Linked DNA regions of Homo sapiens. The protein of the gene in region 2 interacts with the protein of the main gene of each other region in a pairwise test. Each region holds a gene or a part of one and is shown on either strand. Other genes may lie near its edges.

Region 1 (3,920 bases), on a different chromosome or scaffold from region 2:
GTGTCTGTTCATATCCTTTGCCCACTTTTTGATGGGGTTGTTTGTTTTTTCCTTGTAAATTTGTTTGAGTTCATTGTAGTTTCTGGATATTAGCCCTTTGTCAGATGAGTAGATTGGAAACATTTTCTACCATTCTGTAGGTTTCCTGTTCACTCTGATGGTAGTTTCTTTTGCTGTGCAGAAGCTCTTTAGTTTAATTAGATCCCATTTGTCAATTTTGGCTTTTGTTGCCATTGCTTTTGGTGTTTTAGACATGAAGTCCTTGCCCATGCCTATGTCCTGAATGGTATTGCTTAGGTTTTCTTCTAGGGTTTTTATGGTTGTAGGTCTAACACGTAAGTCTTTAATCCATCTTGAATTAATTTCTGTATAAGGTGTAAGGAAGGGATCCAGTTTCAGCTTTCTACATATGGCTAGCCAGTTTTCCCAGCACCATTTATTAAATAGAGAATCCTTTCCCCATTTCTTGTTTTTGTCAGGTTTGTCAAAGATCAGATAGTTGTAGATATGCAGCATTATTTCTGAGGGTTCTGTTCTGTTCCATTGTTCTATATCTCTGTTTTGGTACCAGTACCATGCTGTTTTGGTTGCTGTAGCCTTGTAGTATAGTTTGAAGTCAGGTAGCGTGATGCCTCCAGCTTTGTTCTTTTGGCTTAGGATTGACTTGGCAATGAGGGCTCTTTTTTGGTTCCATATGAACTTTAAAGTAGTTTTCTCCAATTCTGTGAAGAAAGTCATTGGTAGCTTGATGGGGATGGCGTTGAATCTATAAATTACCTTGGGCAGTATGGCCATTTTCACGATATTGATTCTTCCTACCCATGAGCATGGAATGTTCTTCCATTTGTTTGTATCCTCTTTTATTTCCTTGGGCAGTGGTTTGTAGTTCTCTTCCTGAAACTCTAAATACATGGGTGCTAGAATGTTTGATATTATTCCACTGGTCACTGATCATCTGTTCATTTTTTTAATATTTTTCCCTTTCTTCAGTTCAGTTTGAACAATTTCTTCAAGTTCACCGATCTGTTCTTCTGCAACTTATAATCTGCTAAAACCATCCAATAATTCTTTGATGTTATATGTAATTTTGACCATATTTATTTTTCAAATATTGGTTTTTTATTGTTAGATTTTGCATTTGGTTAGTTTTGAGCATGGGAAACTGGGAAATTAAACCCAGGAAATGTGTATTGCAACAAAGCCAATAATTTCAAATTAAATATTGACTATGTCTATTCTTGTCTATACCAACTACACCACTCCAAGTCACAGTTCAAAGCCACCTCATTGGCTGTTCTCTTCTCTTCACCCTTCTCATCTTTATTTTACCTCATCCCTTCAGCTTTTCCTCAGGAAACTGCAAATTCTTTTATGCTATAATTTGGGGCAATATACATCCTTTAGTCCTCTTTTCTTATACCCACTCTGGATCTACCTTCAGAAAGCCCTATTCACTGAGGTACGTAGGAGGAAAAAAAAATGGCCTTTAGTTTTAATAAGAGCCACCTAACTTAAAAGGCACCTGTGACTTTAAAAATTCCCAATGTCCATTAAAATCTCAGGTTTGCCTCTATTTTTCTTTCTATCTATCTATCTATCTATCTATCTATCTATCTATCTACCTATTCATCCATTTCCTAATTATAACCACATGCCACATACTATCTCAGCTACTTCCCCTTTGTTATCTTAATTAATTTGTAAATCCTGCAGAAAAGATATTTCTCTTATTATCTTCATTTAAAACATCAGAAAGCCAATGGCCAAAAATATTGAATACTTTGCCAGGGTCTCCAAGGCCTCTTTTCTCGACTTCTATGATGCACACACATGCCCATGTGCACATGGACAAACCCCATAATGCAGGCATGTGGATTTTTAACCAAGCTATATGGACCCAAAGGTCTAGATGGAAAATTAGTATCTAGAATAGAAGGAAAAATGAGTTGTTTGTGCAGAATTCATAAGTGTGACTACAAGACTGTGAAGAGAGCCATCTTCATAGGAAATAGGCCACGGAGGACTCCAGGAACCATGATGTCCATTTTCACCCACCACAAGCCCCCATTTCCACCAAGCTCTTTCCTAGCTGACAGCAGCTCCCCTGAACACCAATGAAGGACGGTATATGCAGAACTGCCAGTCACCACTCGTCACAAGACCTATGTGGGTGTCGGGAGGCAGGTCCTCTCATGCCCAGGCTCTGTCTCACCGCTGGAGGCAGCACCCAAGGACAGAATAAAAGGGCTCAGGGCCAGAGCATCCCATCCACTCACCTCCTGCGGTGCTGAAGAACCCTGTGCTGCCTGTGATCCTGGTAAGTGTGCCCTGGAAAAAGGAGCAGGGGCTTCCACAGAGGGATGCCCAGGCCAGGGAAGGAGGGGATGGATACTCAGACCAGGGCAGGAGTAGAGTCTAGGCAGGGCCTCAGGGGCCTGGAATTGTGATTGGCAAGGAATGGGGTGGGGGCAGAAAATTGGAAAGAGGAGGTAGAGGGGTGGGGTGGAGTGAGAGAGATTAAGAAGAACTGGTAAGATCTGAAGGGCTGTATGACACAGATTTAGAGGAACCAAATTGTTTTCAGTTGCTCAGTGTGTTTCTCTGGTTTTAGAGAATAAACACATTGGCCACTGGATGTTGCTAGAGTGGGCTGCATAGTGGGAATATAATTTTGGAAATACAGACATACTCACTTTTAGAAAAGATATGCTGAGAACACTGCTACTTAGAGGAAGAAAGGATCAAAGACACCTGTGGATCTTGTTAGATGCCAACAAGAAGATCTGTAGTGGAAAACTGAGTGCACACTGGAGTTTAAAAGCCATGTGACAGTGCCTGGGGACAGGCCTGGGGAGGCAGGATGTGCTAAAGGGCAGAGCCCAGGATGGGAACCAGGGGACCCCGGAACAAATGTGACTGTTAATGAATAACTTTGGGCCAGTGAAGTTACCTCTTTTGGCTTCAGTTTCTTTATTTATATATTGAGTTGGTTGGAACAAATTGACTCCAACATCCTTTGCGGTTATAGTTTTCTCTATTTCTGCAAACTGAAATATATCAGTTCTTCCAATAGAAATTTATTTTGATTTTTCCTTAAAGAGATTTTCATCTCTAAACTGGTCTCAACATTGAACATTTTCAGAATTCTTGGTGATGTGATAGAATGAATGCTGGCCCGGAGCCAATTTATTTCCTGGACTTCTCTCCCACACTTAGGAGCTTTTAATGAGCAGAAACTTTATTTACATATTTGGAGATTATATATTGCATGACAACATCTCAAATAAGGTTTGAAATGAGAATCCATGAATGAAAGCACTTGGTAAACATTGAGAGTGATAAAAACATTAGAGGTGATTTTCCTATGTTTGATATAAGGCTTTCAAAATGAAGGATCTAGAAATAATGCAGAAAGGACAAGAATAGGCAGGGGTGTCCTCTGCCTCCATCTAACTTGCTGTCTGACCCTCCTTCAGCTCCTGAACACCCGCCACCGAGATGTCTTGCCAGCAGAGCCAGCAGCAGTGCCAGCCCCCTCCCAAGTGCACTCCCAAGTGCCCTCCCAAGTGCCCCACACCGAAGTGCCCCCCAAAGTGTCCCCCTAAGTGCCCTCCTGTCTCTTCCTGCTGCAGCGTCAGCTCCGGAGGCTGCTGTGGCTCCAGCTCTGGGGGCTGCTGCAGCTCTGGGGGTGGTGGCTGCTGCAGCTCTGGGGGAGGCGGCTGTTGCCTGAGCCACCACAGACGGCGTAGGTCCCACCGCCACAGACCCCAGAGCTCTGACTGCTGCAGCCAGCCCTCAGCGGGCTCCAGCTGCTGCGGAGGGGGCAGTGGCCAGCACTCTGGAGGCTGCTGCTGAAGTGGACCCTGTGCCTAAAAGAGCAGATTTAGAGGCATGAAAGGGGCAACTTCATCTTCCTTGGG
Region 2 (3,920 bases):
TGCATACTGGTATGTAAATGAAATTGATAGAATGTTAGTAATTATTATAGCTGAGTGTTCATTATTGTTCTTTATACTTTTGTATATATATTTGAAATTTTTCATCATAAAAAGTAAAAAATGAAAGAGCAGGTCAACTAAAAAGGAAAAAATAGAAATAAGGGGGAAAAAACATCTTACCATCCTGGGAATTCTTGTTTACAGAACCAAAGGCTATCTGGTGAAAGTCCTTGACTCCAGCAATCAATCCTGGCAACAAGTCTGGGTTTATCTCATGCACACGTCCTCTGTTTCTCTGCAACACATATGAAGCCCTCAGATGGCTTCCTAGGCGCAGGAAGTTGTGGGGGATTGTTTTTTCTGTTTAAAGCACTGATACTTAGCAACACTATCCTGCAATGAGACAGCAGAGTCATCCATTGCTGCCATCAAACCACAACTTAATAAGTTAATGGTCAAATTGCCTGTGTCCCACTGATGTTAGTAATGAAGTAGCTAACTACAATTTTAGATCAATGGAAACCCCTTGCTTGACCATAAACCCTGTGCTTCTGGAGACCATGTGTACTTTTGTCATTGTCAAAAACCAGTGATTGCCCGAGCTCGGTGGCTCACACCTGTAATCCCAGCACTTTGGGAGGCCAAGGCAGGCGGATCACGAGGTCAGGAGATCGAGACCATCCTGGCTAACACAGTGAAACCCTGTCTCTACTAAAAATACAAAAAAATTAGCTGGGCGTGGTGGTGGGCGCCTATAGTCCCAGTTACTTGGGAGGCTGAGGCAGGAGAATGGCGTGAACCCGGGAGGCGAAGCTTGCAATGAGCCGAGATCACACCACTGCACTCCAGCCTGAGCGACAGAGTAAGACTCCGTCTGAAAAAAAAAATTGTGCTAAGAAGCACATTTTCTCTCCTTTGTCTAAAAGTGAAACTTCAGGAAATTTTGACATTTAATTTTCCAGAGTGTTAATTTAATGAGTAGTTTCTAATTTTAAGCTCCTACCCCATCTTAATGTGAGAATTAGTGAAATAAATAACATTAAACCATTTTTTAATTTTGGGAGTAAAGACAATAAAAATATGAGGTATTGCTGCTTGAATTAGTAAAAACACAATTTAAACCTTGTTTCTTTCAGAAGTTTTGAGGCCAAAGACCGTAATAAAACAAACTCAGGAGCTTATTTCAAGAGAATACTGTCCTTGTCTCATACCTGTCCTTACTACTTTGTTTTGTGTGCTATTATAAGCTCCTCAACCATCTGACCAAGACAGTTGCAGTGATTTGGCTTCATCCATTCTCGTTTAGTGTGCAGTGCTATGGCTGCAACATTGTGAAATCAATTCCTAGAAGTCACAAAGCAAGAATTTGACGTGAAGGGATGTCCCTCATTTAGAATTCCCTTCTGGATAAGATACTGGGGTTTCATTGCAGGGAATTCTTGAGAGAAAACAATAGGAGGATGAGGGATTGTGAGTTGTGTTTTTTTTTTTTTTTCCTAAAGAAAACTATTAATAAAGGAACCCTGTTGACAGTGTAAAGCAGTGCTTCTCTCTGGGGCCAAGGCCAGAGCTGTGGACACCTTATCCCACTCATCCTCATCCTCTTCCTCTGATAAAGCCCCTACCAGTGCTGATAAAGTCTTTCTCGTGAGAGCCTAGAGGCCTTAAAAAAAAAAGTGCTTGAAAGAGAAGGGGACAAAGGAACACCAGTATTAAGAGGATTTTCCAGTGTTTCTGGCAGTTGGTCCAGAAGGATGCCTCCATTCCTGCTTCTCACCTGCCTCTTCATCACAGGCACCTCCGTGTCACCCGTGGGTGAGTCTCATGTCAAGAACTTGGCACAATGCACTTTTTGTTGTGGCAATTTGCTATAATGTACAGATGATTAAGAACTAGATTCCAGTACCTTAAATGCTAGCTCTAGAATCTTGTAAGAAAAGTCCCTAATAATCCTTGAAAATAGATTTCCCGAGAATTTCTGTTACATGTTCCATTTAGCCTCTTGCCTGGACTCCAAAATTTCCATGGATCTGCCATATCCCACAGCTTTCACTAGCTAAAGAGTTCCTGGAGTATGTGTAAAAATAATTCTATCTTCTTTGTGTTCTAGGCACTTTATAGTTCCAACTTGAAGAGCCAAAAAAAAAAAAATTAAAGTTGAGCATAGAATTTTTCTTTAATGAAGGCAAGGGACTGAAAGCTCTGTTGCCATGGGGGGCACAGATCTGGATAAACCAAACTCATTAGTCTTTATGTCAGAAAATAAGACTTTTTGCACAGATCGAGTGAATCTTAAATTGTCTCCCTCCTCAGGCTTGGTGCAAAACTGGCCAGTCAGGCAAAGAAAAGTTTCAATTCCAGTTACTAACAGATTTCTCTCTTGCATCTTTTTCTAGTAGAATGTGAGTACTAACTGGAACAGAGGGTGGGGGTGAGATGGAGAGAACCATCCTTCTTGACACTTTTGAGTAGCTCAGTATCTAATTGACCCTGGCTTATTTCTTCATGGTTGCTCTAGTACCTGAAAGGATACACATTAAAAATAGGCTTGTGGCCAGGCACGGTGGCTCACACTTGTAATGCCAGCATTTGAGAGGCCAAGGCGGGTGGATCACCTGAGGTCAGGAGTTCAAGACCAGCCTGGCCAACATGGTGAAACTCCGTCTCTACTAAAAATACATACACACAAAAAAATTAGATGGTCATGGTGTTGCATGCCTGTAATTCCAGCTACTTGGGAGGCTGAGGCGGGAGAATCACTTGAACTCGGGATGTGGAGGTTGCAGTGAGCCGAGATCGAACCACTGCACTCCAGCCTGGGCAACAGAGGGAGACTCCATCTCAAAAAAATAAAAATAAAAATAAAAATGGTGATTTGAGACCCTAAGGAGACCTGACACCTAAAGGTAATGTGGGATCCTGGAACAGAAAGATATGGGTGGAAACTAAGGGAATCTGAATAAGTGTGGACTTGAGTTAATAATCAGGTATCAATAGTGGGTCATTAATGTGACAAAGGTACCATGCCAATGTGTGGTAAATGTATGGCTAAAGGTAACGTGTCATAACAAGGGAAACTGGGTGTGGGGTATGTGGGATCTCTTTGTCCTATCATCTCAATTATGCTGTAAATCCAAAACTATTCCAAAAAATATGCTTGAGCTACCTGTCATTAATCACCCCCTATCTGCTGCCAATAACTAACCCAAGGGTCGCTCAGAAAGTTGTCCTCCCGAAAATCTCCACTCCCCTTTCTTCCCACCCTTCTCCTTACCTATTCTCCCTCTAGTACCTCCTATATTCCCCATTCTTTCCATATACCATCGCCCTTCCCAGATCTTTTCCTCCAACCCCCAGCTCCTCAAGGATGATATTTGGCTCAATGCCAGAAGCATGATAAAGGGGGAACTTTGGGAACTAGAGCTGGTGTTTGCCCTGAGAGGACAGGGGAAGTGAGAGAAGAGGAAAAGAAGGGATGAGAAAGGGGGAAGCAAAGTGGGGTGATGAGGGAGGAGGATGGAAGAGGATGGAGCAGGAAAGGAGGGGCACTTCCCGACCAAGCTCAGGCACAGGGTCGAAAAGGGGCTGTGATTCAGGGGCGGCTGTCTGCCGGATAGGACCTGGAGGGTTGGAGGACTCAACCCTGGGGCGAAAGGGTGGGGACGCAGACATGGTTCCCTGCCCTTGGCCCTGCGTGGTCCTGGTGGAAGACAGCAGAGGGGCAGCTGGCAAGTGGGCATCTTAGCAAACCATTGAGGAGCTTCTGGCAGGCCAGGAAGCTGTTCTTTTTGAAGCCTTCGCACTGAGATGTATAGATCAGCATTTTAGGATGAATGTGCGCAATACCAGATTCTGGGCTTCACGCTGAGATTAAAAACAGGATATAAGACCAGTGGCCAGATTATTAGATTGGATTGCTG

Evidence for each region.
Region 1: the proteins of OIT3 (region 2) and LCE1F interact in binary tests that used the Homo sapiens proteins (3 or more experiments, as listed by UniProt).

The regions. Positions count from the first base shown.
Region 1 is NC_000001.11:152,772,874-152,776,793, forward strand, and holds the start of LCE1F (late cornified envelope protein 1F), read left to right. Parts: upstream 1-2,266; 5' UTR 2,267-2,317; intron 2,318-3,476; 5' UTR 3,477-3,498; coding exon 3,499-3,855; 3' UTR 3,856-3,920. UniProt on the Homo sapiens protein: Precursors of the cornified envelope of the stratum corneum.
Region 2 is NC_000010.11:72,892,045-72,895,964, forward strand, and holds the start of OIT3 (oncoprotein-induced transcript 3 protein precursor), read left to right. Parts: upstream 1-1,694; 5' UTR 1,695-1,754; coding exon 1,755-1,815; intron 1,816-3,920.